Linked DNA regions of Homo sapiens: all the other regions are linked to region 2. Evidence: fine-mapped expression QTL. A gene starts in region 2. Each other region holds a variant in brackets. All regions are shown on one strand. Distances are between the middles of the regions.

Evidence for each region.
Region 1: its variant is fine-mapped to the expression of SMO in whole blood (TOPMed, PIP above 0.99).
Region 3: its variant is fine-mapped to the expression of SMO in monocytes after Pam3CSK4 (Quach 2016, PIP 0.95).

Annotation. Positions count from the first base shown.
Region 1 is chr7:129,163,305-129,174,034 of GRCh38, forward strand. TSPAN33 (tetraspanin 33) reads left to right here. Exons shown (of 8, transcript NM_178562.5): 5 at 1,170-1,265; 6 at 3,474-3,602; 7 at 4,095-4,256; 8 at 4,469-6,395. The coding sequence ends at 4,570. It also overlaps the pseudogene RNY1P11. Among named protein-coding and RNA genes, the nearest start is that of SMO, 20 kb to the right of the region's middle. RefSeq lists a silencer at 5,883-6,102 and enhancers at 6,473-6,522, 6,592-7,461. The variant C/G (reference allele first, on the strand shown) is at 4,425.
Region 2 is chr7:129,183,103-129,193,832 of GRCh38, forward strand. It overlaps SMO (smoothened, frizzled class receptor), which reads left to right and starts at 5,531. Exons shown (of 12, transcript NM_005631.5): 1 at 5,531-6,380. The coding sequence starts at 6,050. RefSeq lists an enhancer at 4,749-4,838 and silencers at 5,468-5,737, 5,968-6,227.
Region 3 is chr7:129,118,819-129,128,561 of GRCh38, forward strand. It overlaps the pseudogene LOC407835. Among named protein-coding and RNA genes, the nearest start is that of TSPAN33, 21 kb to the right of the region's middle. RefSeq lists enhancers at 3,417-3,586, 4,037-4,306, 8,462-8,962. The variant GGGCCCT/G (reference allele first, on the strand shown) is at 3,929.

The sequences.
Region 1 (10,730 bases), 20 kb before region 2:
TTGTTTTGAGGTTTATTTTTCTTTCTTTCTTTTTTTTTTTTTTTTTGGTTGTTGTTTTTGTTTTTTAAGAGATGGGAGTCTCACTAGGTTGCCAGGCTGGCCTTGAACTCCTGGGCTCAAGTGATCCTCCTGCCTCCATCTCCTAAGTCTCTGGGATTACAGTCATGTGCCACCATGATTGGCTTAATAAAAGGTTTTGAACAATGCTTGCCATATCTGGAAATGGTCTGCCATTCAGTGACAGTCCTTTTTAAGAACCAGAATGTCTTTCCCAAAAGGCAAATGATTGCCAAGGGCAGACTACAAAACTAAGGAAAGAAAATTTGAGAAAAGTAGTGGGGCAGGAAGGAAGAGACTATGGTAGAAAATTATGAAATTGGGCCAGGCGCGGTAGCTCATGCCTGTAATCCCAGCATTTTGGGAGGCTGAGGCGGGCAGATCACTTGAGGCCAGGAGTTCGAGTCCAGCCTGGCCAACATGGCGAATCCCTGTCTCTACTAAAAAACACCAAAAAAATTAGCCAGGTGTCAGGAGGCTGAGGCACAAGAATTGCTTGAACCCAGGAGAAGGAGGTTGCAGTAAGCTGAGATCGCGCCACTACACTCCAGCCTGGGCGACAGTAAAACTGTATCAAGAAAAGAAAAGAGAAAGGGAGAGGGGAGGGGAGGGGAGAAAATTATGAAATCGAGAGCCACTGAGTTAATTCCGAATTTCGTAGTCCTCCTGGCTTACAGTAAGATCCTGAAATGATGTATTAAATAGCTCTGTTTTGAGTCTAAAGAGATGCAATTATCTAGTGTCCACTAGAGGGCAGTGCCTCAGCTCAGTAAGCTACTTTCTGCTAAAAAAATTAAAAATTAGTTTGTTTTTATCAGTCAACAAGTATTTTGTGATAATAGCATTCAGAGATAGATACACATTGGTATATCTTGAAATGTGTCTCTGAAAAGCTTCAACAGCAGGTCCAGCATTTCTCCTGCCCACTGGTACCTGAGGGCCCTGGGATGGGCTTTGGAACTGAACCGGCTATCTTCCACCATTAGGACTCGGTTCTGATTTCAAGGCAGACTCAGTTAAGAAGGATGATCCCTGTCTACTGTTATTTTTGCTGGAAGGAGCAAGTTAGGGATTAGTCCTGTGTTCTGATTCCTTGCCCATGTCTCCGGCAGGCTCGAGGGAAAGTGAGTGAGATCATCAACAATGCCATTGTGCACTACCGAGATGACTTGGATCTGCAGAACCTCATTGATTTTGGCCAGAAAAAGGTATGGGTCAGCCAGTGGTCTGGGGGACTGTGGGTAAAAGTGAATGTCATCCCAAGAGATGCCTCACCCTCTATGCCTGTGGGGCTCTTCATTACCTGCCAGGTAATGGCTTCTGGGAAGGGGTTTGGCAAAAAAGCACACGTAGCAGAGTGCTTTAAATGTACTTTTAAAGACACAGAACAGTATATATAGTAATCTACTGTGTTATAAATGGTTACCTACAGGGGGTGAGGAACTGGGCAGATTCTTGAATATTACCTCTTCAAAAGTGACATTTTAGGCTGGTCCAAAGGGAGTGAGTTATCTCATTTGATTGTTCACAGTCAGCTACAGATCCAACTCCTTGTTCTACTCTTTCCCCCCTTCTCACTGCTGCACTTGACTAGACTAAAAAAAAGAAAATTACATTTAAAAAATTGTGATAAAATTTACATAATGTAAAATTTACCATTTTTAAGCATACAGATCCGTGGCATGAAGTACCTTCAATTGTTGTGCAACCATCACCACCATCTCCAGAACGCTCATCTGCCCCAGATGAAACTCTGTATCCATCAAACACTAACTCCCCATTTCCTCTCTTGAATCTCTGTATCCATCAAACACTAACTCCCCATTTTCCTCTCTTGAAACTCTGTATCCATCAAACACTAACTCCCCATTTTCCTCTCTTGAAACTTTGTATCCATTAAACACTAACTCCCCATTTTCCTCTCCTGAAATTCTGTATCCATTGAACACTAAAGCCCCATTTTCCTCTCCTCCAGCAACCACCATTCTACTTTCTGTCTGTAAATTTGACAACTCTAGGTACCTCAAATGAAGGGACTCACGGTATTAATGCTTTTTTGAGTGGGTTATTTCACTTAGCATGTCTTCAAGTTTCATCTCTGTTTTGGCATGTGCCACAACTGCCTTCCTTTTGAAGGCTGAATAATATTCTGTTGTATGTATATGCCACATTTTGTTTATCCATTCATTCACCAGTGGAGAAAAGGGTTGCTTCCACCGTTCGGCTACTGTGAACAAGGCTGCTATGAATCAAAAGTTAACAATTAGGCCAGGCATGGTAGCTTACATCTGTAATCCCAGCACTTTGGGAGGCCAAGGCAGGCAGATCATTTGAGGTCAGGAGTTTGAGACTAGCCTGGCCAACATGATGAAACCCTGTTTCCACCAAAAATACAAAAATTAGCCGGGTTTGGTGGCGCACACCTGTAGTCCCAGCTACTCAGGAGGCTGAGGTGCGAGAATAGCTTGAATTTGGGAGTTGGAGGTTGCAGTGAGCCAAGATCATGCCATTGCACTCCAGCCTGGGTGACAGACAGAGACTCCGTCTCAAAAATAAATAAGTGAAAAATAAAAGTTAACTTTTTTTTTTCCCTGAGACGGAGTCTTGCTCTGTTACCCAGGCTGGAGTACAATGGCGTGATCTTGGCCCACTGCAACATCCGCCTCCTGGGTTCAAGTGAATCTGCCTGCCTCAGCCTCCTGAGTAGCTGGGATTACAGGTGCCTGCCAAACCACGCCCAGCTAATTCTTGTATTTTTAGTAAAGATGGGGTTTTGCAATATTGGCCAGGCTGGTCTTGAACTCCTGACCTCAGGTGATCTGCCCTCCTCGGCCTCCCAAAGTGCTGGGATTACCGGTGTGAGCCACAGCACCTGGCCAAAAAAGTTAACTTTTAAGTAAAAGTGCTTCTGAGACAAGTCCTGAGTTCCCCTTCCTCTGGTGCAATAGACACTTGACTTTGAGATCCAGTTGGCTCTCATGGAGTAATGATTGACTCACAATATTGAAGATTCCTCCCCTGTGTTTTCTCTATCTTAAGGAGAAGTTTTTCAGCACTGATACTGTAATTATTTCAGCCAATACTTTTGATCACTTCCATTTGCCTGCAAAGCCAGAAACTTCTCTCAAGAAGATTATAGCTGAGTATGTAAAACAAAATATATGTACAACTGTAATACCAACAAGCACAGTGGTAAGTTATAACAAGATATACGAAGTAATAGAAATTAAGAAGTGAGAATATCTTCAGGCGAAGGCAACTGGGAAGCTGGAGCTCAAAGTTTAAGGCTGTGTTAAAACACAACCTAAAGTTCCCAGTAGAAGCTTGCTATAGACTTTTGGTGGCTCTGAGAATTCCCCTGGTCACCTCAGTGTGAGGGGTGGGTGATTCTTAACCTCTGGTGGGTTTTGTTGCAGTTTAGCTGCTGTGGAGGGATTTCCTACAAGGACTGGTCTCAGAACATGTATTTCAACTGCTCAGAAGACAACCCCAGTCGAGAGCGCTGCTCTGTGCCTTACTCCTGTTGCTTGCCTACTCCTGACCAGGTGAGCCAGCATCCTGCCTCATTTCCTCCTAGGCAGCGAGCTGAGTCACTTTCTGATGGGGGCAGCTGCTACTGGGGATCCCCATCCCCTAGCTTCACCGATCAGTCATGTGGGACAGCTGTCAGGTGTTTTTCTTCACCCCAACCTGATGCTTCTATTAACCTCATACTCATGTAGTCCACATGGAGTTCAGAAGGGACAGATTTAAGTTTTAAGTTCAGATTCAGTACCTGTGCAGGTTTGTTATATAAGTAAACTTGTGTCTTAGGGGTTTGTTGTACAGATTATTCCACCACCCAGAGCAAAGAGACCTGGATCCTGACCTCTCAGAGGAAGGGAAGTCTGCATTTGGCAACTTCCAACCCAATATCCTCCACATATATTCTCTGACAATTTAGGAGTTTGGGAAGGGTGGGAAGCCCATCAGCTAAGGCCCCAAACAAAAAGTTATTGGAATTACAGTCCCAATTGGCTTTTCAACTCTTTCCCCAGGCAGTGATCAACACTATGTGTGGCCAAGGTATGCAGGCCTTTGACTACTTGGAAGCTAGCAAAGTCATCTACACCAATGGCTGTATTGACAAGTTGGTCAACTGGATACACAGCAACCTATTCTTACTTGGTGGTGTGGCTCTAGGCCTGGCCATCCCCCAGGTAACTTACCCTGTGAGACTTGTTGGTCCCACACACTCTGTAAAGACTCCTTTGTTTTGGGGAAGGCACCTGGGGATCAGCGAGGGTGTCAGGCACTGACATGGCTGAGGGGTAGGGAAAGGGATAGTGCTGGCCGCACTGGGAAGATCGAGCCAGGGAAAACAAGGC[C/G]ATCACTCACTGCTGAGTGCCCAATTCCTTCTTGCCTCTCCCAGCTGGTGGGAATTCTGCTGTCCCAGATCCTAGTGAATCAGATCAAAGATCAGATCAAGCTACAGCTCTACAACCAGCAGCACCGGGCTGACCCATGGTACTGAGAATCCATCCTGCACCTCCTCACCATGGAAACTGGCAAGCCTCATAAACGAACAGCAGTGGGTGCTGAAAGCAGCACCAAATGGAGATTTGGATTCCAGCCCCCCAGTGACAGCCCAGTGGGAAGAAGCAAACTCCAGATGGGCAGAAGGCAGGGTGCACAGGTGGCTCCAGTCTCAGGAGGATGCGCCTCCTCTCCCCCATCCCAGCCCTCAGCATTGTGCCAGAGTGATACCCTTAAGTGTTTGGGTTTATGTTTTCAGTTTTGTTTGGGAAACAGCAGTTGCACAGAGAGTTGGGGGTACTGCTGCTGCCTTTTCACCGAGGCACTGCCACCACCAGCTCTAGCAGGGATGCTCCTGAGCTTGGCGGACATACTTAGATCCTAACGTGCCAGTGAGACCTGGCTGTGGAGAGTAGCACTGGCAGCCCTGCCTGGACTCCACTTGGCATGATACCAGCTCCAGAAGGGAAGGGAGTGGAGCAGGCAGTGAGGAGAGAGCCTGGGGGTCGGCTGGGGACAGCCGTATGTGCTAGGTAGGAGTGGAGGGAGATATGTTTACCAAATGCCTGTCCTGCCATCCTCCCAGGTAGTCAGAGTGAGCTACATCCTGCCCCGCCTTCATTTCCATGGAAACATGGCAGCTAGGACACGGGGTACAACAGCAGCCAAATTCTTCCCCACCTCCCTTACTTCGAAAAAAAGTTTGGAACCCTGGTCCCTATACTCTGCAGTCAGAAGTGGGACTGAGCCATACATGCCCTTGAATTCCTCCCTGTCTGGCCCTCCCTCTCCAGCAAGCAGGGTTTTCTTTAACTTGGCAGTGTGCAGAGGAGAAGTGGTAACACCCCCACCCCATTCCCCTGCATCGGAGCTCAGTATTCCTACAGGGTAAGAGGTAGGAATCTTGCTGGGACGAGGGGAGCCAGAAGTGGCAATAAAAGCGTGTTGACCTGGGCTACGCGGGACTCCATGAATTTTCCATTCTGGCAACTGGAAGGGGAGGTGTAGAAGGGCCCTGCAGAGGACGGCACTGGAGACTCTCCTAAACGCCACACACCTCCCCCTTGCTGCCCGCCACACGCGCGTCTCCTTCAACCGATGCATTGCCACCCTCCCACAGCCTCGCCCTCTGCTCTAAATTAGGTCGAAAGAGTCCCAGTTCCAATCTAGGAACAGCATAATTTTGTTCCAAAACCTGATCTGTGTTTTTCTAATTAAAATTAATTTGTCACCCAAAACAGGAGGGGGATGGGGAGGAGGGACATGAGCACTCCGCTGGGGCCGGGACGGGGAATGAGGAGGAAGAAGGCCCTCTCTTCCCCTACCCGGGCCCTCCAGGACCTTCTCCCTGAGTCGGCTGTAGGGAGGACTCCGAGGAAGCTCGGCGCGGTGCGCTGGGCCTCCTGGCGCCGGGAGGAGCGCGCGAGGCAGGCGGGGCGGGCGCGTCCGGGGCGGGGCGCTGGACTTCGTGGGTGGTCCCCGCCCCCGCGGCGGCCTAGGCCCGCGCCTGCGTCCCCCAACCCGGAGGAGATGGGGGGCTGTGCTAGCTGCTTGCCCAGCGAGTGTTCCCGGAGTCTCCTCGCCGCACCCCGCTATCGGGCGCTCAGACCAGGGGCTCGGCCTGGCGGGAAATAGCCTCGACCGAACTGCTGCGGGGACAAAGAGCCGCGAGTTCGCTCCCTGCCCCCAGTGTCTCCTAAGCGAGCCTTCTGCTCCTAGGAAGGCGCCTTTCCAGCAGCCGCTGGGACCCTGGCCAGTGTTTAGCTCCCAACTAGTAACAGACGGAAAGAAAAAATAAAATTATCCAGAATCTAGAATAAAAAGTAAGGGCCTTTTATTCTGGGAGAGGACAGTTAAAAAGCGCGCTTTCTTGCTAACTTGCCTTTCTTGGTTAGTGCCAGAGACGTGCACTTTATAAACTTATTTAAGTGACACGGACCCAGAAGTCGATGTCTTGGGTTAGAGGTTGGAGTGATGCGCCCTCTGGGTTCAGCGGCTTTGAGGAGCTCACCCTGCAGCGGGCTCCGTTTGGGGCCCCTTGGAGGAAGTAAGACCAGGAACCGTGATCCTCAGAATGATTATTCAAATCTGGATTTTCAAAACTAAGAACTACACTTTCACCATCGCCTCTACTGTCTCTCAGTATCTAGCCTCCTGGGTCTGGACTAAAAGGCTGGGAACTTCTGCCCATGCCCCAGACTTTATAACGCACAGAGCAAATGTTCAGTATAGTGCAGTTCAGGGTTCCTAGCTAGATTGCAAATTGCCAATGTCTCTGATTCTCAGTCTGTAGCTTTCTTTCTCTTCGGCCTGATGCTGGGGAAGAAAATACGCGAAGTTTTATATTTCATGTTTGCTCCTTGAATTTCTACCTATTTCTAGTAACCCTCCTCCCAAACACACACTGTTACCAGACACACACTGTTACCGGGAGTCCTTCCCAAGAGAGGGTTCTTGGATCTGACACAAGAAAGAATTCAGGGCAAGTCCATAAAGTGAAAGCAAGTTTATTAGAAAAGTAAAGGAATAAAGAATGGCTACTCCATAGACAGAGCAGCCCCAAGGGCTGCTGGTTGCCCATTGTTAGGGTTATTTCTTGATGATATGCTAAACAAGGGGTGGATTATTCATGCCTCACCTTTTTAGACCATGTAAGGTAACTTCCTGACGTTGCCATGGCATTTGTAAACTGTCGTGGTGCTGATGGGAGCGTAGCAGTGAGGACGACCAGAGGTCACTCTCGTCAACATTTTGGTTGTGGTGGGTTTTGGCCGGCTTCTTTACCGCAATCTGTTTTATCAGCAAGGTATTTCTGACCTGTATCTTGTGCCGACCTCCTATCTCATCCTGTGACTTAGAATGCCTTAATCTGCTGGGAATGCAGCCCAGTAGGTCTCAGCCTTATTTTACCCAGCGCCTATTGAAGATGGAGTTGCTCTGGTTCAAATGCTTCTGACACCACTACTTTAGAATAGCTAATCAAATGTAGGCCGCAAAGGTGGTTGAATGAAAGGAGATTCTTGGGGACAGCAGAAATCAGGCTTGGTACACAGAGGTGGAGAGAAAGGCCTGAAGGATGGTGAAAACCTGCCAGGGTGGCATGCCAAGAAAGGCACCACTAAGTTCTGCGGGCCTTAAGCCCTGCAGTTAAACAAAGACTTGTGCCCAGAAGAGCAAATTTTGCAGAATGTTCAGTGAAATTCTGATTTCCTCCTATCAGGTTTTTATTGCTACTGTTACAAATTACCAGACATTTAGTAGTTTAAAGCAACACAAATTTATCTTACATTCTGGAAGTAAGAAGTCCAAAATGGGTCTCACTGAGCTAAGATCAAGGTGTGAGCAGGGCTGTATTCCTTCTTGGGGGCTTCAGGGGAGAATCCATCTTTCCTGCTCCCAGAGGCCGCGTGCATACCTTTGGGTGGTCCCTTTCTCCAACTTCTGTCATCACATCTCCTTTTTCTCTGACTCTCCTACTGCCCCCTGACAGGACCCCTGTGATTGTATTGGCCCATCTAGATTATCCAGGATGCCCTTCCCCCATGAAGATCATGAATCTCGCCACGTCTACAAAGTCCCTTTTAGTATGTAAGGAAAGAGATGCATCGGTTCTAGGGATTAGGGCATGGACATTTTTGGGGTGGCATGATTTAGCTCATTACATCCCCCTTTCCAGCCTCATGAATGCCTTCAGGTGCGGGGCATTTGGGAATGAGCTGATGTTGGATGCTGGCAAGAGTTTGAGGTAGGTGTTCTCTGGTCTTCTTTCTGATAATTATGTAACGTCTATCAAGTGCTTATGATGCACCAGGCACATATTTATTATGAAGTTCAATACGCAGCCTTGGCTATTTTCTGACTTATCCTCATCCTGAAGACCAGATATGTTAACAGGGCCAGAGACCAGGTTCAAAAAGGAGAGCAGGCCAGGTGCAGTGGCTCATACCTGTAATCCCGGCACTTTGGGAGGCCAAGGCAGGAGGATCACCTGAGGTCAGGAGTTTGAGACCAGCCTGGGCAACAGAGGGAGACCCTGTCTGTACAAAACATAAAAATTAGCCAGGCATGGTGACATGTTGGCCTCTACTGTCTCTTGCTATCTAGCCTCCTGGGTCAGTCCCAGCTACTTTGGAAGCTAAGGTGGGGAGGATCACTTGAGCCTGGGGGTGTGTAGGGGTGGGGGTGGGAGGCAGGGAGGTGGGTGTCGAGGCTGCAGAGACCTGTGATCACCCCACTGCACTCCAGTGAGCAACAGAGAAGACTCTTTCTCTCTCTCTCTCTCTCTCTCACACACACACACACACACACACACACACACACACAAAGCAAGCAGCACAGCTTCTTCCATCAGCAGTTCTTCTGTTCTGTTTTGTAAACACCCCCACCCCACCCCCAAAAATAAGAGCAATTAGATATTTCAAATCATCATAGGTAAAGCACTTAGGGGAGGGAATAAAGTAAGGGATAACCACGGTCTAGAACTCCAGTTGGAAATTAAGCCTCCAGAGTCTTCTCATTACCATATCGGGAATGTGGAAAATCAATCAAATGAATGGAAATAGCAAAGGGATTCCAGAAATATTTTGGACATCGGTGCTCACTATATAATAAACAAGAAGCAATGCAATGTTGAGAGGAAGCTGTAATCATAATTACTAATAAATGCTATTAGGCGAATTATTACAGTGTGGAAAATAAGTAACAGATTCCTACCTCACACTGTGCACTGCAAAGCATTCCAGAAGGGTAAAAGAGCTAAGATTTTAAAGTAAAACAAACAAGAAAACCAGAATATCATACTGTCCTAGCTCTAGGAAGCTACAGTAGACAGCTTTTCAGTGTATCTTCCCAACTTGCAATGATTCCTTCTTCTTTGGAAACTGGCATCCACCCCTCAAGCCATAGGGGTGAGTCTTGAGGAGCCATATTTATCCTCTAAGGCCTGGTCCCCTAGGCATAGCTGATTGGATCCAGCTCAGGCACTCTATTCGTTTCCTAGGGCTCCCATCACAAAGTACCACAAAAATAGATCGCTTAAAACAACAGATAATTATTGTTTCACAGTTTTGGAGGCCGGAAGTCTGAAATCAAGGTGTTGACCAGGCCATGCTCCCCGGAAGCCTCCAGGGGAGGATCCTTCCTTGTCCTTTCCAGCTTCTGGTAGCTGGGTATTCCTTGGCTTGCGGCAGTATAAATGCAGACTCTGCCTCCCTCTTCATCTTCCCTCTGTGTCTGTGTCCCAATTTTCCTCTTCTCATAAGGATGCCAGTCACATTGGATCAAGGCCCACTGTACTCCAGTATCCTCATCTTTTTTTTTTTTTTTTTTTTTTGAGACAAAGTCTTGCTCTGTCACCCAGGCTGGAGTGTAGTGTCACGATCTTGGCTCACTGCAACCTCCACCTCCTGGGTTCAAGTGATTCTCCTGCCTCAGTCTCCCTAGTAGCTGGGATTACAGGCACGCACTTCCACGCCCTGCTAATTTTTGTATTTTTAGTAGAGTCAGGGTTTCACCATGTTGGTCAGGATGGTCTTGAACTTCTGACCTCAGGTGATCTGACCATCTCAGCCTCCCAAAATGCTGGGATTACAAGCGTGAGCCACCACGCGCCTGGCCTCCAGTATCATCATCTTAATTAATTACTTCTGCAATGACCCTATCTCCAAATAAGGTCCCAATCTGAGGTGCAGGGGTCTAGGGCTTCAACATATCTTTTTTAAGAAGTCAAAATTCAACCCACAACAGGCACCTAACCCAAACAGTAACAAACAGAGTTATTTCCCTGGGACTTGGGAATTGAGAATGAGGTTCTAGTCACAGCCTGGGCTGGTCTCATGAAGAAAGAGAAGGCAAAGGGAGGCTGAGGTACCAGCCCTCTTATGCTCCAGGGACTGATTATGGAGAAAGTCTATTCCCAGAAACAAGAGAAGGAAGGAGTGGAGTGCGGTGAGGAGGAAGAAGAGGAGTCCTCCTAGAAGCGCCTTTCCTCTATAATCCCAGAACCTTTCTGCAGCGGCACTGCTTTCCAGCCGTGGCTTCCCTATCTGCTTACAGTAAAGCCTGTTTTGTTTGCTTAGGGAAGCTCAACTAGTTTCTCTTGCTCGCAAGCAGAGTTAATAGAAAAACTAGAATCAGAGTAAGATGCTGTATTAGTACTC
Region 2 (10,730 bases):
GCGGAGATTGCAGTGAGCCGAGGTCGCGCCACTGCACTGCAGCCTGGGTGACAGAGTGAGACTCCGCCTCAAAAAAAAAAAAAAAGAAAGAAAGAAAAGTGTGTCTTTTTTTCATTGGGCTTGGCACCCTTGTCGAAAACCAATTGGCCACATATGTGAGGGTTTACCTCTAGGCTCTCTATTCTCTTCTATTGACTTGTATTTCTGCCCTTATGCAAGTAGTATAGTGTTGTTTTGTTTTGAGACGGAGTCTCACTCTGTTGCCCAGACTGGAGTGCAGTGGTGCAATCTCGGCTCACTGCAACCTCTGCCTCCCAGGTTCAAGCGATTCTCCTGCCTCAACCTTCTGAGTAGCTGGGATTACAGACACGCACCACCATGCCTGGCTATTTTTTATTTTTTATTTTTTATTTTTTAGTAGAGACAAGTTGTCCATGTTGGCCAGGCTGGTCTCCAGCTCCTGATCTCAAGTGATCCACCCACCTCGGCCTCCAAAAGTGCTGGGATTACAGGCGTGAGCCACCGTGTCTGGCCATGGTGTTTTAATTACTGTAGCTTCACAGTATATTTTGAAGTTGGGAAGAAGTGTGAGTCCTTTTTTTTAAGATTGTTTTGGCTATTCAGCTCTCCTTGCAATTTCATATAAACTTGAGGACTGGCTTTTCCATTTCTGAAAAAGAGGCTGTTGGAATTTTGATAAGGATTGTGCTAAATCTGTAGATCAATTTGAATTATATTGACTAACACTGTTAAATCTTCCTATCCTTGAATACGAAATGTCCTTTCACTTATTTAGGACTTCTTTAATTTCTGTAAGCAACATTTTGTACTTTTCAGTATATGAGTCTTTTACCTCCTTGGTTAGATTTATTCACAAGTATTTAATTCTTTTTTTTTTTTTCTGAGACGGACTCTCGCTCTGTTGCCCAGGCTGGAGTGCAGTGTCGCAATCTCAGCTCATTGCAACATCCGGCTCCCGGGTTCAAGCAATTCTCCTGCCTCAGCCTCCCAAGTAGCTGGGATTATAGGCACCCACCACCACGCCCAGCTAATTTTTATATTTTTAGTAGAGACGGGCTTTCACCATGTTGGTCAGGCTGGTCTCGAACTCCTGACCTTGTGATCCACCCATCTTGGCCTTCCAAAGTGCTGGGATTACAGGCATAAGCCACCGCACCCAGCCGTATTTAATTATTTTAGATGCTATTGTAAATGGTATTACTGTTTTAATTTCCCTTTCAGGTTATTCATCACTGGTATATAGAAACACAACGGATAATTTTCTCATTTTTGGGAGGGAAGAAATTGAGGCTCAGAATAAGTTGCTCAAAGGTGCATGGCTAGTAAGGCCCAACTCAGGGCTCTTAATTCTGAATCTATCGTGCTGTCTCTCTGAAGAGGTTGCTTATTGGGCCCCTTTACCATTTTGCCCTTTCCCTTTGACTCAATGCTCTTAATTGCAAAATAGGAAGCACTGGGAAAAGAAAGAACTGGAGCACAGCCGGGTGTGGTGGTTCACACCTGTAATCCCAGCACTTTGGGAGGCCGAGGTGGGCAGATCACCTGAGGTCGGGAGTTGGAGAGCAGCCTGGCCAACATGGTGAAACCCCATCTCTACTGAAAATACAAAGATTAGCTGGGCATGGTGGCAGAAGTCTGTAATCCCAGCTATTCCGGAGGCTGAGGTAGGAGAATCGATTGAACCCAGGAGGCGGAGTTTGCAGTGAGTTGAGATCGCACCACTGCACTCCAGCCTGGGCAACAGAGCAAGACTCCATCTAAAAAAAAAAAAAATTGGAGCACTGCAACAGTTATGTTCCGAATTTTGCCAGTGTAACAACTGAACCACAGGAGGCAGCCATGGTCTCAGTGATACCCATGGATACGTTCACATCAACCCTCTTTGACTGGAGGGCCCACAGGCAAATGACAGTCAACATTGAATTTGTGACCTCAAAATGCCAAAATACTTTATGAGAATGACTCAGAAATCAAGAAGCTACTTGTAACAAATCAAGTACTGAAATGCATTGTCAACACAGGACAGCCTCTCATCCCTGAGAAAAGGATTGTGTTAGGACATGCAGTTGAGGCTAAGACTCTTGAGGAACTGGGTGGGGTGTGGCTCAGGCTTGCTTGGGAGAGAAGCACTTTGCAGCCTGCCACCAGGCTGGAGACCTGAGTGTGCCAAGTCACTCTGCGTAGTCTAACAGACACTGGCAGTCTTGTATGTCTACAGGAGGGGATGCATGAACTTTCTCCAGGAACCTGAATACCATTCACGAACGACTGGGAAATTCCCTCTCCCCAGTCCCCACTGAACAGTTTCCTTCTCTCAAATGACAGGATTCCTGAATCTCTTTCTACTTCCTTCTATATCTAGGAGATAGCACATCGCTGCAGCTGTCACTAATGGGAACGTGGCCTGATAGCTGTGGACAGTACTAGCAGCATTTTCTCAGTCTGCCTTCCTGCTACCCTTTGCTAGGCCAGCAGGATTCCCACAAGGGAATACTGAAGTCTGATGAATAGGAGCACATGTGTGCATGAGTGTACACACACACACACACAAACACACACACACACAGAATTGAGAACTTATGGTATATTCTCCCCTCAAGAAGGGAAGAGCATTCTGGCTGGAAGATAGTGTCTTAGGATAGCCTCAATTTACCTCTGCTATCTCCAATGTGAAGGTATTATATTCCCACAATGCGAATCTTCCTCATACTTCCTGAGAAACCTCACACAAGAAATGGGAGAGCCTATATCCTTGAAGAATTACCTACTGACATTTGGAGTAGAGAAATAAGGGCCTGCCTGAGCACATGTGTAAGTTCTTCCCTAATACATGAAATATTAGGAAAATCCCACAGGGCTTCGAGACTGCCACAACCAGATATTTTACTCTTGCTCACTCAGGAAGGTAAAGAGAAAAGCAAAAACAAACAAAACAACACACACACACAATCAAATAGAAAATAAGTGCAGATAGTTCACAAAGCAAAGCATCGGGTGTGCTATCAGGCTCCAAGGCAGCTTTCTCTACAGCTTGGACTTAGACATGTTATAACAGCCATTTTATTATGTCACAGAAAGAAATAACTGAAGTAGGTCATAACATTTCAAATTATTTTTCCAGTAGGAATATTATGCCCTGATGACATAGTCTAGTTTCACTTCTTCCATAAGTCACCAGAGACTTTCCTTAAAATGGTCCCTTGTCTCCAGCCTCTTGCACTTCATGCCATCCTCATGTTGCCTTATGTATTAGTCTGTTCTCGCATTGCTATAAAGAAATACCTGAGACTGGTCAGGTGCAGTGGCTCACACCTGTAATCACAGCACTTTGGAAGGCTGAGGTGGGTGGATCACTTGAGGTCAGGAATTTGAGACCAGCCGGGGCAACATGGTGAAACCTCGTCTCTACTAAAAATACAAAAATTAGCCTGGCGTGGTGGCATGTGCCTGTAATCCCAGCTACTCAGGAGGCTGAGGCAGGATAATCATTTGAACCTGGGAGGTGGAGGTTGAGGTGAGCCGAGATCACACTGCTGTGCTCTGAGATCACACCACTGTGCTCCAGCCTGGGCGACAGAGCGTGACTCCGTCTGAAAAAAAAAAAAAATACCTCAGACTGGGTAATTTATAAAGAAAAGAAGTTTAATTGGGTCACAGTTCAGCAGGCTATACAGGAATCATAGCAGCTTCTGCTCCTGGAGAAGCCTCAGGAAACTTCTAATCATGGTGGAAGGCAAAGGGGGAGCGAGACATCTTACATGGCAGGAGCAGGAGGAAGAAGCGGGGAGGTGCCAAACCCTTTAAACAATCCTCGTGAGAACTCACTCATTATCGTGAGAGCAGCACGAGGAGGATGGTGCTAAACCATTCATGAGAAACTGCCTCCGTGATCCAGTTACCTCCCACCAGGCCTCACCTCCAACACTGAGGATTACAATTCAACATGAGATTGGGTGGGGATGCAGATCCAAACCATATCACCTAATATTAACCAGTAAAGATTAATATCATTCCCCTAGTCAAAACTTTGAGATTTCCTTACTATCAAGAGAATTGACCCTTAATTCTGTGTGTTATTTGAGGCTTCTTACCAATCAGTTTCCCTACTTATCTATGTCCTTATTCTAACTCCTCCTACTCACACTTTAGTCCTGGATTCAAAACCCACCTCCTCCACTTCTATCCACACTGACCTCTGTCCCCTATTCCTATAGCATACTCACGGTACATCTCATTTTGGCAGCTTATTTATCAAGTGATTACTATGTATGCTCAAGTGAACTAGATGTTTTGTGAACACTAAGAGAATGAGATAAGGTCCCTGACCTGAAGGAGGGAACGTTGCTGTTCTGTCATGCTATGTTTCCTGAGAGCAAGCCATGTATCCACAGGAAAATGGAAGTCTACAGGTTCCTCCAGGATGTCTCTGTGCTATGTACATGCTGGAATTTCAGAAAGACTTGCTAAATTGAATTAAATTCTCTCTCTCTCTCCAATTGATATAGTTGAAGTGCAATAACTAATATGCACTTAAACTGTCCAAAGTAACAGAACTAGTCCACTACCGCTAGGCCATGAGCAAGTCTTCCAGGGGTAAGAAAGGAAAACCCACCCTGGTGTGCAGCCCGATCAGCAACAAGGAAAAAGTTGCTCAGTGCAAGTCTACTCTCCTGTTTGGAGCCTTGTGGTTATGCTGGGTTATACTTGGTTGTGCAGGTGTAAACTGCTGAAGTGGGAAATTAAGTGTGGTGACCAAAAGTGTGATGCTCAAAGGAGTGAGGAAAGGCAAAATGAGCAGAGTGGGGAAGAGGAGCAGCAGAAACCTCCCAGAGCAGATGAGCAGCAGGGCCATCAAAGAAGGACTGGTTTCCTTCTCACATAACCAAGGCCAGTCCCTGGGAACCACAGTTCAGACTTCACATATTTGTAGCAGTAAAGGCTTGATGTTGGCAAGTTTATTTCCCAGACACCTGTTCCCGCAGGTAACAGCAGCCAGAGCAGCTGCCGTGAGTGACTCTGAGGTCGTCTCTCTCAAAGGTCCCGAGCTGGAAGGATTTGGAGAAGCGCAAACCCCAAACCCAGGTTCTTCTCCATGGGGCCCCGGGATACGTTGGAAAATCTAACCAAAGCAGGAAAAACTGGCGGGCCTGGAGAACGGGGCAGAGATGGAACAGAAGTCCCCGTTGACTTCAGGCATCCCCTGTCTTTCCCATCCTGAGCCAGGAGAAAAGTCCGCTTCCTGCAGACGACCTCAGACCAAGCAAGGTGCCCGCCGAGTCTCTCCTTGCAGGTCCGGCCCACGATTTCCACTCATCTCTTTCCCCCGGGCGCGGGGCGGCGGCAGGCGGGGTCACCAGATCCCCCTAGCCCGGGCCCCTCCAGGCGCCAGGGACGCTGACGCTCGCGCTCTTCCTCTCTCGCCTCCCCTCCCCACCTCTCCGCTCCTTCGTCCAGTCCCTCCCCCAGCCTCGGCGCAGGGGGGCCGGGCTTGGCTCCGCGAGGCCCGTGCATTCCAGAGAGCCCAGCGAGCTAGAGCAACAAAGGAGCCGGGTCGCCGGCGGGGAGAGTTCGGGGGGCTGCGGCGCGCTGGGGCGAAGGTGGCTGCTGGGCCGCGGGCTGGCGCGGGGGCGGAGCCGGAGCTGCACTCGCACCCCCGGCCCGCGTCTGGCCTCCCTCGCGGGGCGGGGAGGTGGCTTTAATGGTGGGAGAGGGAATGGGGCTGGGGATTGGGGGCCCAGGGGTCTCCTAGGGCTGAAGACAACTTGGATTGCGAGGCTAGGGCTTGGGGAGTCGTGCATCCCGTTCCGGGCCTCCGCAGCCCAACATGGGCCCCGGGTTCCAAAGTTTGCGAAGTTGGGCGCCGAGGGGCCGGGGCGCGCGGAGCGTCCGGGGGGGCCCGGGCCCGGATTCTCTGGGCGCACAGGTCGCCTGAGCCGCCTCCGCGGCCGCCGAGGTCGTGCGTGTGGCCGGGGGGCTCCGAGGAGCAGGCGGGGGCGCCGGGGCTTTTGCTGAGTTGGCGGGGTTGGCCATGGCCGCTGCCCGCCCAGCGCGGGGGCCGGAGCTCCCGCTCCTGGGGCTGCTGCTGCTGCTGCTGCTGGGGGACCCGGGCCGGGGGGCGGCCTCGAGCGGGAACGCGACCGGGCCTGGGCCTCGGAGCGCGGGCGGGAGCGCGAGGAGGAGCGCGGCGGTGACTGGCCCTCCGCCGCCGCTGAGCCACTGCGGCCGGGCTGCCCCCTGCGAGCCGCTGCGCTACAACGTGTGCCTGGGCTCGGTGCTGCCCTACGGGGCCACCTCCACACTGCTGGCCGGAGACTCGGACTCCCAGGAGGAAGCGCACGGCAAGCTCGTGCTCTGGTCGGGTAAGTGCGGCGGAGCCGGGTCTGGGGGGCGGGAGGTGCCGCGGTAAGATGGGGGCACCCTTGGAAAGAACAGGCTCAGGCCTGAGTTTTGGAGAGGGCGGGGACAGCACCCGGGAGAGTTGGAGGGACAGATCCCGAAACTTTGGGGGCAGGTTACGTGCAGGATGGGACCCTCGGTCATGGGAAAAGGAGGGCAAGGAAGTTGACGAAGCGGGTCACAAAGGGCCTGAGCTGGTGGGTGAGCAAAGGATGGCGGGGATGAGGGGCCCGTGAGGAGGTGGCTCTAAGCCACGGGAAAAGACATTTTGTAAGAAGAGGAGATGCTCCACCTATTCTGGAAGCAGGGTGCCGGGGGATTCAAGGAGGTGTTGAAGACCCTGGGGAAATTGGAGTTGGAGAGGAAAAGGGGAGGGATGACGGAGGAAGAGGTTTAGACATTTGGAGGGAAGGGTAGGGGGACATGATCGAGTGAAGTTTTGAAGGAAAAGAAACCTCCCTAGTGATGAATTATTAAAAGGTAACCAGAAAGTTCTGGAAATCTTGATTTGGGAGACAGGAATGAAGCCTAGAGAACTGTGATCTTGTCTGGCTTTCACGGGAGATTTCATTCAGTTTGTGCATCTGAAAAACCGGCCCTCTGACGCATGCAGGAGGTTATGAAGGAATAAGACCTTTCTAACAGTTATTTGTGTTTTCTTTGGAAATTTGGTTACCGAGGCTGGTCAGGGCTGTGGAAGGACGCTTAAGTCTGGAGTGTTGAGAGCCTGTGGACACTTCCATGGTGGTTTGAAGTCCCAAAGCCCCCTCACTGGAGTGGCAGAGTCTGAAAAACTGCACACTGAACCCAAATGTCCTTCCTTAGCAGTGTGGAGTATACTCTCCCCCACCTGTCACTTTTCTAGATGAGGCTTGGAGGGTGCTGAGGAAGGGAGCTGGCCTTATCAGCCCTCGCTTCTAGCCAGTATGATTCTAAAACTGTCCTGGGAAAAAGAAAAGAAAACCAGGAGCCAGGAGCAGAACTGGGAGCCTCCCTCTTTTGACAGGGCTGGGGTACCCCATCTCTTAGCTCTGCCCAGGGGGCTGGTGAGGACCCTAATGTAGGGAGTGTATGTAGGCCGCCTGTCATTGACAAGTTCTCGGCCTTTGTCAGATGTTGGACAAGGCCATAAGGTTCCTGGCTTGGTGCAGATGCTGGAGGAGGAACTTGGAGGATGGTATCCATGGTACCCATGAGGAAGAGCTGCATCCTTTTTGGGGATCAGGTTCTAAAGTCAGCACAGCACATTAGACAGAAATCATGTGTAAACAACAGTGGCTTTGAAAACTCTGCAGATTACCATAGTGTAAGGTGGATGTGGTTTTGCATATACACTTCTTTTACGATGTTTGCATACATGTGTTACATGTATACTCATATATAAGAATGGGTATACATAGAAGATAAAATAATTGTAATTTTAAAGTTACATTCATGCAAAAGACTGAAATAATAATAATAATAATAAAAAGAACACCAAAGTGAGATTAAGCAAGATTGCTTTGAGCACCACCCAAAATGAGACTTGAGTTTAGGAGCCAGCTGTGTGGAAAGTCCAAATCTCTCAGCACTAGAATCTCACCCAGTTCTGAGTTGCTCATGCTGTCAGAGGATAATCTTTCTGTCCCTCTCTTTATTGATTGTGCAAGGACCCATGGTTTAATTTTCCCAAGTTAAATGCATGTTTGATGTTGCCTCTGTGTAGTTACCATCAGATCAAGGAGGAAGGGTATGAACCTCTTTCCAGCCCATACTCTTGAGAGCAGCTGCTGAGCAGACAGAAGTAGTTTAAGCTGGAACATGTATCAATTAGTACCATCTGCAGGTTGTGCAGGTTGAAATCTCACTATCTGTGCCTTTTGGCAGGGCAGGGTCCTACAGAGATGCCAGCACTGAGCCCAGCACCGTTAGTTCCATTAGTTCACTATGAGTTCTTCTCTGCCACCAACCACCATCCCTCAGCTCATTCCTGTTTCCATATGTGTTCTGGTTGCACTCTTTCTGCTTGGGACTTGCAAGTAGGGCAGAAGCAGGTGTTGGCTTGAGCTGGGTAATGAGTAGGTAGAGTGAACCCAAGCCTCGTGTGAGAATCACAGCCAGGTCAGCTGGTAGCCTCTGGCAAGTGATTTATCATGTCCCGAGTTAATGATCTTGATTTTGCATTAGACAGGGTCAGTGTTACCTGGCTCTTAGGGGTGTTTTTGTGGGTGAAGGATGAAGGTGATCTAGGTTGTCTTCATCGGTAAACTCTTGAATGTAGGAACTGGGTCTTCACTTTTTTTCAAAGCCTGTGAGTACTGAGTACACAGCCATGCTTCTATTCATGCATTCAGTTATGTATTGAATGTTTGCTGTATGTCACATGCTGCGCATGTAAGGATGAAGAATACAGATATGATCCTCTGTCATCAAGAAGACAGGCTGGACATGGTGCTCACACCTGTGATCTCAGCACTTTGGGAGGCCGAGGCGGGAAGATTGCTCAATACCAGGAGTTTAAGACCAGCCTGAGACCTTGCCTCTAAAAAAAAAAAAGGAAGACAGATAATTCAACAGGCTTTGGAAATACCTGTGAAAGGTACTGTGGCATTTTAGGGTACTGAAAAAGCATAAAGGACCCAAGGAACATCCCAGAAGAACTGGCATTTAACCCATAACTTGACACATAAGCAGGAATTGCCTGGCCGAGGGAGAGTTGAGGTTTGAAGGGATAGGAAGAGGAAATAGCATGTACAAAGGTGTAGAGGTAGGAGGGCTTGGTGCTTTGAAAGAAAGTATAAGAGTTGCAGTAGAACTGGATCAAAGCGTGTGAGGGGTGGAATTGTGAGAGATAAGACCTAAAGAATTAGAAAATAAAGGGATTTATACCTCATATTAAGTTTGGATGTTATCCAGGGGATGATAAGGAGCCATTGAAAGATTTTAAGCAAGGGAGAGATGTAATTGTCTTTGCATTTTAGCTGGATCTCTTTGGGTATGGTGTGAAGAAGCCATAGGAGCAGGGAAAGCCTGGAGCCTGGCTTCTTGACCAGGGGATGTTGAAGTAGCCCAAGTAAGAGACGATGGCGGTTGGGACTGGGTAGCAGGACAGAGGGAGTGGGCAGATCCCACTAACTTTCAGAGGTAGTGCTCATAGGGCACTGATGAGTTAGATGTGGAGCCTCAGTGAGCAGGAGGCCTCGGGTTTCAGGCTTGGATGGAAGGTGGTGCCATTCCCTTTCACTAAGATAGAGAATGCTAGAGGAAGAAGAAGTTTAGGCAGGAGGTGTGGCTTTGATTTTGGCCGTGTGAATTAGAGATGCTCATTGGACATCTATGTGGAGATTCTCAGCAGATCTGGAAATAGGAATTGCTGGAGAGAGGTGGCCACTGTGTGCTTCCTTGGCCCTGACTACTGAGGCTTTGGAAGGATGCCATTGACTGAGGAAGTTTATAGCTCAGGTTGGTCCAATTTCTAGGTCTGTATAGACCTCAGGTCTTTCCTCTGTCTTTCATCTCTCTGGCCTCAGGCTTCTTCAGTCACTTAGCATCTCTCCCCTTTACAGCTGGAAATGCCTCCTCCCGGGCATTCCAAGCTGACCAGACAAACATAATGTCCAGGCCGTGGTCCACCTTAGGCCAAACCTGGTTTAGTAAGTGGGGCAAAAAAGCAGAGAGGCCTGCAGCTGGCAGTGGCGATAGGTCCCTGAGAGCCAGCACGTAGCCTCCTTAACCACTGCTGTGCTCTGTGTGGTACATAAGTGTGTGGCCCTGTCACCTTGCCCACTTGCAGGTAAGTAGGAGAGAGACAAAGGCTGGGAGGAATTTCTTGTTTGCCTCTCACACATTGAATTGAGGGCTGAGAGGAGGAATGTTTTTGGTGATGGTGGGTTATTTTCAGGGACGGATCAGGAAGAATTTCCTTAGAGCTATTTCCAAACTTGGCTGGTAATCAGAGTCAGTTAAAAAGATATATATGGCCGGGCGCGGTGGCTCACGCCTGCAATCCCAGCACTTTGGGAGGCCGAGGTGGGCGGATCACGAGGTCAGGAGATCGAGACCATCCCGGCAAACAGGGTGAAACCCCGTCTCTACTAAAAATACAAAAAAATTAGTTGGGCATGGTGGCGGGTGCCTGTAGTCCCAGCTGCTTGGGAGGCTGAGGCAGGAGAATGGCGGGAACCCGGGAGGCAGAGCTTGCAGTAAGCCGAGATCACGCCACTGCACTCCAGCCTGGGCGACAGACCGAGACTCCATCTCAAAAAAAAAAAAAAAAAAAAAAAAAAAATATATATATATATATATATATATATATATATGTATAGGCTGGGTGC
Region 3 (9,743 bases), 65 kb before region 2:
ACTTATTCCTTCTATCTAGCTGTAATTTTGTATCATTTAATAAACATCTCTCTAACTCCCACTTCCCTCTGCCCTTCAAGCCTCTAGTATCCTCTGTTTTACTTTTTACTTTTATGAAGTCAACTTTTCTTAGCTTCCACAAAGGAGTGAGAACATGCAGTATTTAACTTTCTGTTCCTGGCTTAATTCACTTAACATAATGTGCTCCAATTCTATCCGCATTACTTCAAATAACTGGATTTCATTCTTTTTTTAATAGCCGAATAGTGTTCTATTGTGTACGTATACCACATTCTCTTTATCCATTCATCTGTTATTGAACACCTAGGTTGAGTCCATATTTTGGCTATTGTGAATAGTGATGCAATAAACATAGGGGCACAGATGTCTCTTTGATATACTGATTTCTTTCCCTTTGAATAAATGCCCAGTAGTGGGATTGCTGTATCATATGGTAGTTCTATTTGTAGTTTTTTGAGGAACCTCCAACTCTTCTCCATAGTGGCTGTACTAGTTTACATTCCCACCAACAGTGAATAAGAGTTCCATTTTTCCACATCCTCACCAGCATTTGTTATTTTTTTGTGTTTCTGATAATAGCATCCTAACCAGAGTGAGATGATACTTCTTGATGGTTTTGATTTGTGTTTCCCTGATGATTAGTAATATTGAGCATTATTTTATATATTTGTTGACCATCCATTTGTATGTCTTCTTTTGAGAAATATCTGTTCAGATCATTTGCCCTTTTATTTATTTATTTTATTTATTTTTATTTTTTTTGAGACAGGCTTGCTCTGTCACCCAGGCTGGAGTACAGTGGCACGATCACAGCTCACTACAACCTCTGCCTCCCAGGTTGAAGCCATTCTCCTGCCTCAGCCTCCCGAGTAGCTGAGATTACACCCATGTGCCACCACCACACCCGGATAATTTTTTATATTTTTAGTAGAGAGGGGGTTTCACCATGTTGGCCAGGCTGGTCTCCAACTCCTGACCTCAAGTGATCCACCCTCCTGACCTCAAATGATCTGCCTGCCTTGGCCTCCCAAAGTGCTGGGATTACAGGTGTGAGCCACCATGCCTGGCCCATTTGCCCATTTTTTAAATTGAATTATTTGCTTTTTTGCTATTGAAGTGTTTGAATTCCTTGTATGTTCTAGATAATAATCCCTTGTTGGATGAATAGTTTACAAATATTTTCTCTCATTCTGTTGATTGTCTTTTCACTCTATTGATTATTTCCTTTGCTGTGTAGAAGCTTTTTAGTTTGATATAATCCCATTTGTTTATTGTTACTTTTGTTGCCTATGCTTTTGAAGTCTTATAAAATCTTTTCCCAGACCCATGTCCTGAAGCATTTCCCCATGTTTTCTTCTAGTAGTTTTATAGGGTTGGGTCTTACATTTAGGTCTTTGATCCACTTTGAGTTGATTTTTGTATAGGATGAAAGTCAGGAATCTAGTTTCATGCTTTTGCATATGAATATCCAGTTTTGCCTCAACCATTTATTGAAGAGACTATCAATAAGGGTTCTTGGCACCTTTGTCAAAAAACAGTTGGTTATAGATACATGGATTAATTTCTGGGTTCTCTATTGTTCCAGTGTTCTATGTGTTTGTTTTTATGCCAGCGCCATGCTGTTTTGCTTACTACAGCTTTGTAGGATATTTTAAAGTCTGGTAGTGTGATGCCTCCAGCTTTCTTTTTGCTCAAGATTGCTTTGACTATTTAGGGTCTTTTGTGGTTCCATATACATTTTAAGATTTTTTTTCTATTTCTATGAAGAATGTCGTTGGTATTTTGATAGGAATTGCATTAAATCTATAAATTTCTTTGTGTAGTAAGATTTTGTTCTGAATGCTAAAACTGTAGGTATAAATAGGATGGCACTGCTGGCCCAGAGGAAGGCCTGATTAGCCAGGGTGCCCCCTAATAGCTCTGACTTCACTAGTACCCAACCTTCTCTCAGTACTTTGAGGGATTAAGACAAAAATATCACATCATAAGTCTGATGCTGAAACAAGTTTGTTCCTTTAATGAGATAGTTTTTGACAAATTGGATCCAACATCTCCTGTTAAAATGGAAATACATATTTAGAGTCGTGGTAGGGCAGGTAGACAAGTAACAAGCCTGAGTGGCCATCACCACATTGGTATGAATTAATTTAGGAACAAAGAAAAACTTCCTGGGAGGATATGATCTATAATGGGATGGTTGGGGGGGGGGGTTGTTAGTGGTGGTGGTAATGGGTTATTTTAGTTTTGAATGTGTGTGTTGCAGGGAAGGAAAAAGGTTGGTGGAGAGTTCAGAGCCAAAGCCATGCTGAATGACAGGTGGAAGACAGTCTGATGGATCATAGTCACTGTTCTTAAAGAATACATAATTCAGGCTTGCATGAGACAAGATGAACCACTGACATCCTAATTTCTCAAAGTAGTCATTGGAAATGGAAAGAAGAGCCAGGATTTATTGGAGGGTATATTCACACAGAAGGGGTTCATGAAGGTGAGGGACCCTTTCACCTCCCCACTGGGCAGAAAGCACTTGCCAGAAGAAAGGGTTGCAAAAGAAGGTTGAACTCAGCAAGAAAAGTGCCTTGGGTCAGTCTCTGTACTGCTAAATAGGGCCTACCACCCTACCCTGCCAATCCCTACATAGGCCCTGTCTTCAGTAAACACTAGAGTTCGCTTACCTTCCATTCCAAGAACCAATCTGACATCTGCTGTATTAGTCTGTTTTCACACTGCTGATAAAGACATACCCGAGACTGGCTAATTTACAAAAGAAAGAGCTTTAATGGACTTACAGTTCCACATGGCTTGGGAAGCCTCACAATCATGGCGGAAGGCAAGGAGGAGCAAGTCACATCTTACATGGATGGCAGCAGGCACAGAGAGGGCTTGTGCAGGGAAACTCCTATTTTTAAAACCATCAGATCTCATGAGACTTATTCACTATCATGAGAACAGCATGGGAAAGACCTGCCCTCATGATTCAATTATCTCCCACCCAGTCCCTCCCACAACATGTGGGAATTCAAGATGAGATTTGGGTGGGAACACAGCCAAACCACATCATCTGCTGTGCCTCATCCCACAGATAGCAGAGCTTCCTCCTAATCTATCAAGAGTTCAGCATTTAGTGAGTGGTCAGGATCTCACCCTTCATTTAACCAACTAACCACCACCAACCAACCACCACCATCAGAGGTGGGCCTAAGGCAGGCCTTGGGGTCTCTGGGAAGTGGGCCATGCTCAGTCTACATCCCAATGTGCTATGGCTCCTGACACTCTGAGCAGGGGCTCTCCCTTGCACACACCAAAGGAATGACTGGGCTTAAAAAACGTGCCAACTTGCTTATAAATCAGTCTCCTCAGATTCTACAATTCACCGAGCCATAAAACCTCAGAGCTTCAAAGATGCTTAGAAAATATCAAGGCCAGGGTTCCCAGGAAGCCTCAATGCTGCCATTTTACAAAGGAAGAAACTGAAGTGCAGAGAGATTAAGGGGCTTGTCCAGGTCACACAGCTACTTAGTGGTAGATCTGTAACTAGAAAGGTTTCAGTTCACACTCAATGTTCTTTCCTCTAGAATCTAACCTCTGCCCCCTTGTTATTTTTGGCATGAGAGAGGAGGATTATATTTATGTCTCTAGAAAAGCTGTGCTTTTGGATTGAATTCTGATTTTCTCTTCTCAAGTCTCATTGAGAACCACATGAAAAAACTCTGCTGGATTTGAGTTAAAAAAAAAAAAAAAAGAATCTGAAGAAAAAAATAGCAAATCTGGTATCCTAATGAGATAATGAATGCACAAGTACTTTGAAAGAGGTACAGCACTTCAGTGCTTTTCAGATATGAGGTTTTGTCATGCTCTTGAAAGAAATGCATAGGCTTTACTGACATGGGGGCTGGGGCTGGGGCTG[GGGCCCT/G]GGCAGAAATGGGGAAGCACAGGCTGTGGCAAGGGGGGTTTCTCCAGAAGGCTGACTCATTTCTTGGCTGTCCCAAGCTTAGAGAGCCAGATTTCTTAGGGTTGTTTACCACCTTAGTAAGGAACTGGTGGAGGGTTTTTTTCTGGAGTTAAGCACTGCAGGAAGAGCTGCCCACAGTATGGGGGTGGGTCATCTGCTTCTGGACTGCCCAGGCCAACTGTGGTTACCCCAGTTAACTGTGGTGAACTGTCCACATAACCAGCCTTCTGGATCTGCCTTTCAAGGAGTCCCACTGTGCTTCTCCCTGCTGAGGCCGCTGAAAGGGCATAGGCAATTGCTAGAGGTGAAGAAAAACTCTGTAGCTAAGCTATAAAAACAGGCATCCTGAATCTGGCTACATCCTGGTAATCTTGCACATAGGATGAATCCTAAGAAAAGGTGAGTCTTGTTAATGTGCACAGCACACAAGCCAGCGGGATGGCGTGCCAGTCAGCAGATTTTCAGTTTCAAGATAACTGAAAATCCATTTTTATCTGACTTAGACAAAATGAAACAAAACACCAAACCAACAAACAACAACCACACAATTTCACTGATTCGCATAACTGAAAAGTCTAAGGTTAGGGCTTGTTTCAGGCACCACTGATCTTGTGGCTCAAACTATGTCACTGGGACTTGGTTTAACCCTGTCTCAGCTCTACCTTTCCTCAGTGTTACCTTCTCTCTCAGGAGCCCTGGGGTAGCCCCCAGTGGCTGCAGGTCATCTGTAATCCCAGGGGGTCCCAGCAAAAGAGAGAGGGAATCCCTTTCAGTAATGGTCCTCCTCCCCAACTAAATTAGAGGCTTCATTCTGACTGGACCAAGTTAGAGCGCATAACCATCCCTGGGCTCTGATTGGCCAGAACAGAGTCCGGCGTTCCACCTGCCAGGTGGAAGGGTAGATCTCTCCCATGCTCACTGAGCCTGAGACAGGAGGTGGGGTGGCATCCCAAAGGAAATCTAGCATGCTGGTACCAGAACGGGGAATAGGTGCTGGGCTTGGAAAAATAACAGACAAACACTCAGTGCTACCCATTTAAGCATTTGAAATAATTTCACTTCAAAATCAGAGTGGTCGAGTCTCAGACACATGAGATTCTGTCTCAGATTTCTGGTGGCTTGAATGGAGGGTGTACAGAATCATGTCTTGATAAATGTTTAACTTCTAAGATTTGAAGTGCAGATATTGGTCTGGGTATCCCTCCTAGAAATCTTTGCATTTTCTGCATTTTCTTTTTAATATTTTATTTTTATTTTTATTTTTATTTTTTTGAGACAGTGTCTCAGTCACCCAGGCTGGAGTGCAGTAGTGCGATCTTGGCTCACTGCAACCTCCGCCTCCCGGATTCAAGCGATTCTTGTGCTTCAGCATTCGGAGTAGCTGGGACTACAGGTGTGAGCCACCACGGCTGGCTAGTTTTTGTATTTTTAGTAGAGACAGGGTTTTGCCATGTTGCCCAGGCTGGTCTCGAACTCCTGGCCTCAAGTGATCCTCCTGCCTCAGTCTCCCAAAGTGCTGGGATTACAGGCGTGAGCCACTCACTGCACCTAGCCTATATTTGAATTTTAAATAGTGATTCCACACCTTAACCTAACCATAATGGGAATTGGATTAGAGAATGGTGGGAATTTCAGACAAGTTGGTGAGGGTGAGAAGTAAGGGAAGAGAAACGTTATGGAACCTCTCACATAAAAAGTGCACAGTGGCCTACCCCTATATGGATGTGAGACTGCTCCTGATAGGAAATATCCCCAAACCCCTTGTTTGCAGTCCACGGCCCCAGTCTCAACTCCACCAAATCATGATGCTTCCCCTGAGATCATGATTGCGTTGCCCAGTTTCCTCTCTGACCAGACCTGATTCTACAGACAAAAGCCAACCTCCTCACTTCGATTCCCCTGGATCCTTTCCTCCTCTTCACATCTACAGCCGCTCTTCTAACTTCTTACTCCCGTTGCAATTCCAGATATTCCAGAGACAGGATATCTCCAAGGCACTCCAGGGCCCCAAATAACAAACCTTATTTGTTTTCCACCTCACACAATCTGAACTCTTCTGCCTGCCCTTTGAAACCCTTCGCGAACACCTCCAACCTTATTTCTTGCTCCTCCTCAATACAGCCTGTTCTGGTTGGCACAGCCTCACCTCTTACCTTTGCCACGATGCTACTCCTGCTGCGTCACTCAGTTCTGCATGGTGAGTCTCCTCCATCCACTGTGATCTGGAACCACGTCATTGTCAGTGGAGGTTGAATACAACTGGAATTTTTTATGGGATTCTAACAGACCTGTCCCTGATAATGGCGTGCCCCTAATTTCCGTTCTTTACTGACTACTCATTGGCTGTATCACTCTAGTTGCACAAATGATCTCTATCTCCCTCTATGCATGCCTACTAGGTCCAGGGAAGTAATATAGTGTTTGTAACTAGGAGTGGTAAAGATGATGGCTAATTGGAGAGAGTAAGCTCAAGCTAAAAGCATTCAAATTCAATTTTTTTTTTTTTTTTGAGACAAGGTCTAGCTCTCTTGCCCAGGCTGGAGTACAGTGGCATGATCACAGCTCGCTGCAGCTTCAAACTCCTGGACTCAAATGATCCTCCCACCTCAGCCTCCGGAGTAGCTGGGACTGCAGGTGCTCACCACTATGCCCAGCTAATTTTTTTTAAAAAAAAAATTGTGGAGACAGAGGTCTTTCTATGTTGTTCAGGCTGGTCTTGAACTCCTGGGCTCAAGTGATTCTCCCATCTTGGCCTCCCAAAATGCTGGGATTACAGACATGAGCCACCGTGCCCAGCTCAAATTCAAAAATTTTAAGACATTATGGGACAAAGAAAATTCACCTGTCCATCCAAATAATGTAATGTGCAATAAATCTGCAACCACTGCTTAAGCTTGTCTTGAAGTTTTTCTGTTTTGCAGGACTCTTCCTGAGCAGTACATTTTCTTCTCTTCTAACAGAGTTAGAATTTATTGCTTACAACTCTTTCAGAAAATGGCAGTAATTAGAAATGGAGTCTGAGGAGGGGGATTTGCTCAAAATACGAGTATCGTTTCTTTACCATTTTTCTTTAGCAATGTATTCTGTAATCATAAATGAGCTACATGAAGATCTGAGCACAGCCTGGAAATATTGCATGTTTAATATCAGCCTCCTTTCCCTTCTTCAGAATTAAACTCTGGATCCTTCCTAGACTTGGCCAGTTCCAAGTCACGACTTCGTCAGATACACTCTTGCTGTAAGAAGCAGTAAAGTTCAGTGGTTATGATCACAGACCTAGAGCTGGTCTATCTGGGTTTAAAGCCAGACTCTATAGCTTTCTGGATGTGGCTGTCTGTTTAACCTTGGGCAAGCTAGGTGACCTCTGTTTGCCTCAGTTTCCTCATTTGTGAAGTGCGGATAATAATAGTACCTACCTCATGTCATCGTTTTAAGGATTAAATGAATTAACACATTTAAAATATAAGAAGTTTGAAAAGCTCTTGGACTCCGGCTGCAGCGTCAGCCTCCCTCGGGCCTCGGCAGCGGCGGCGGCTCGCTCGCCTCAGCCCCAGCGCCCCTCGGCTACCCTCGGACCAGGCCCGCAGCGCCGCCCGCCCTCGGCCGCCCCGACGCCGGCCTGGGCCGCGGTCGCAGCCCCGGGCTCGCGTAGGCGCCGAACGCTCCCGGCCCGCCCACTACGGGCCCAGGCTAGAGGCGCCGCCGCCACCGGCCCGCGGAGCCCGGATGCTGGCCCGGAGGAAGCCGATGCTGCCGGCGCTCACCATCAACCCTACCATCGCCGAGGGCCCGTCCCCAACCAGCGAGGGCGCCTCCGAGGCAAACCTGGTGGACCTGCAGAAGAAGCTGGAGGAGCTGGAACTTGACGAGCAGCAGAAGCGGCTGGAAGCCTTTCTCACCCAGAAAGCCAAGGTCGGCGAACTCAAAGACGATGACTTCGAAAGGACCTCAGAGCTGGACGCGGGCAACGGCGGGGTGGTCACCAAAGTCCAGCACAGACCCTCGGGCCTCATCATGGCCAGGAAGCTGATCCACCTTGAGATCAAGCCGGCCATCCGGAACCAGATCATCCGCGAGCACCAGGTCCTGCACGAGTGCAACTCACCGTACATCGTGGGCTTCTACGGGGCCTTCTACTGTGACAGGGAGATCAGCATCTGCATGGAGCACATGGATGGCGGCTCCCTGGACCAGGGGCTGAAAGAGGCCAAGAGGATTCCCGAGGACATCCTGGGGAAAGTCAGCATTGCGGTTCTCCGGGGCTTGGCGTACCTCCGAGAGAAGCACCAGATCATGCACCGAAATGTGAAGCCCTCCAACATCCTCGTGAACTCTAGAGGGGAGATCAAGCTGTGTGACTTCGGGGTGAGCGGCCAGCTCATCGACTCCATGGCCAACTCCTTCGTGGGCACGCGCTCCTACATGGCTCCGGAGCGGTTGCAGGGCACACATTACTCGGTGCAGTCGGTCATCTGGAGCATGGACCTGTCCCTGGTGGAGCTGGCCATCGAAAGGTACCCCATCCCCCCGCCCGACGCCAAGGAGCTGGAGGCCATCTTTGGCCAGCCCGTGGTCGACAGGGAAGAAGGAGAGCCTCACAGCATCTCCTCTTGGCCAGGGTCCCCCGGGCGCCCCAACAGCGGTTACGGGATGGACAGCCTGCCCGCCATGGCCATCTTCGAACTGCTGGACTATATTGTGAAAGAGCCGCCTCCTAAGCTGCCCAACGGTGTGTTCACCCCCGACTTCCAGGAGTTTGTCAATAAATGCCTCATCAAAAACCCAACGGAGCGGGCGGACCTAAAGATGCTCACAAACCACGCCTTCATCAAGCGGTCCGAGGTGAAAGAAGCGGATTTTGCCTGCTAGTTGTGTAAAACCCTGGGGCTGAACCAGCCCGGCACACCCACGCGCACCGCCGTGTAACAGTGGCCAGGCTCCCCGCGTCCCGCTGGTGACCTGCCCACCGTCCCTGTCCACGCCCCGCCCTTCCAGCTGAGGACAGGCTGGCGCCTCCACCCACCCTCCTGCCTCACCCCTGCGGAGAGCACCGTGGCGGGGCGACAACTGCGCACGCAGGAACGGGGGTCTCCTCTCCTGCTGGTCCCTGCCGGCGTGCCTCTAGGGACGGGCGACGCTGCTGTGTGTGGTCTCAGAGCCTCTGCTTCCTTAGGTTACAAAACAAAACAGGGAGAGAAAAACCAAAAAAAAAAAAAGAAGTTTGAAAAGTTGGGAAACACTGGGTAAACTTATTTTTAAACAGTGTATTAGTCAGCTTTTCAAATAATATGGTCAGTATCTTTTTCTTCAACCCTTGGACAACCCCCTATTTAAGACAATGAGTCCAGGCCAGGCACGGTGGCTCACACCTGTAATCCCAGCACTTTGGGAGGCCAAGGAAGGCCAACTGCTTGAGCCCAGGAGTTGGAGACCACCCCAGGCAACATAGCAAAATCTTGTCTCTACCAAAAAGATAAAAATACAAACAATTAGCCAGGTATGGCAGCCCACACCTGTGGTCCCAGCTACTTGGGAGGCTGAGCAGGGAGAATCACATGAGCCCTGGAAGCTGAGGCTGCAGTGAGCAGTGATCATGCCACTGCACTCCAACCTGGGTGACAGAGCAAAACCCTGTCTTAAAAATAAAATAAAATAAAATAAAGCAATGAATCCGATTTTAATCTTTAAAAAGTATAATAAATACACTAAAAAGTGTCCAAAAATTCTGGAAATATAGGAAAAATATATATATTTAATCTGAAGTAAGCTT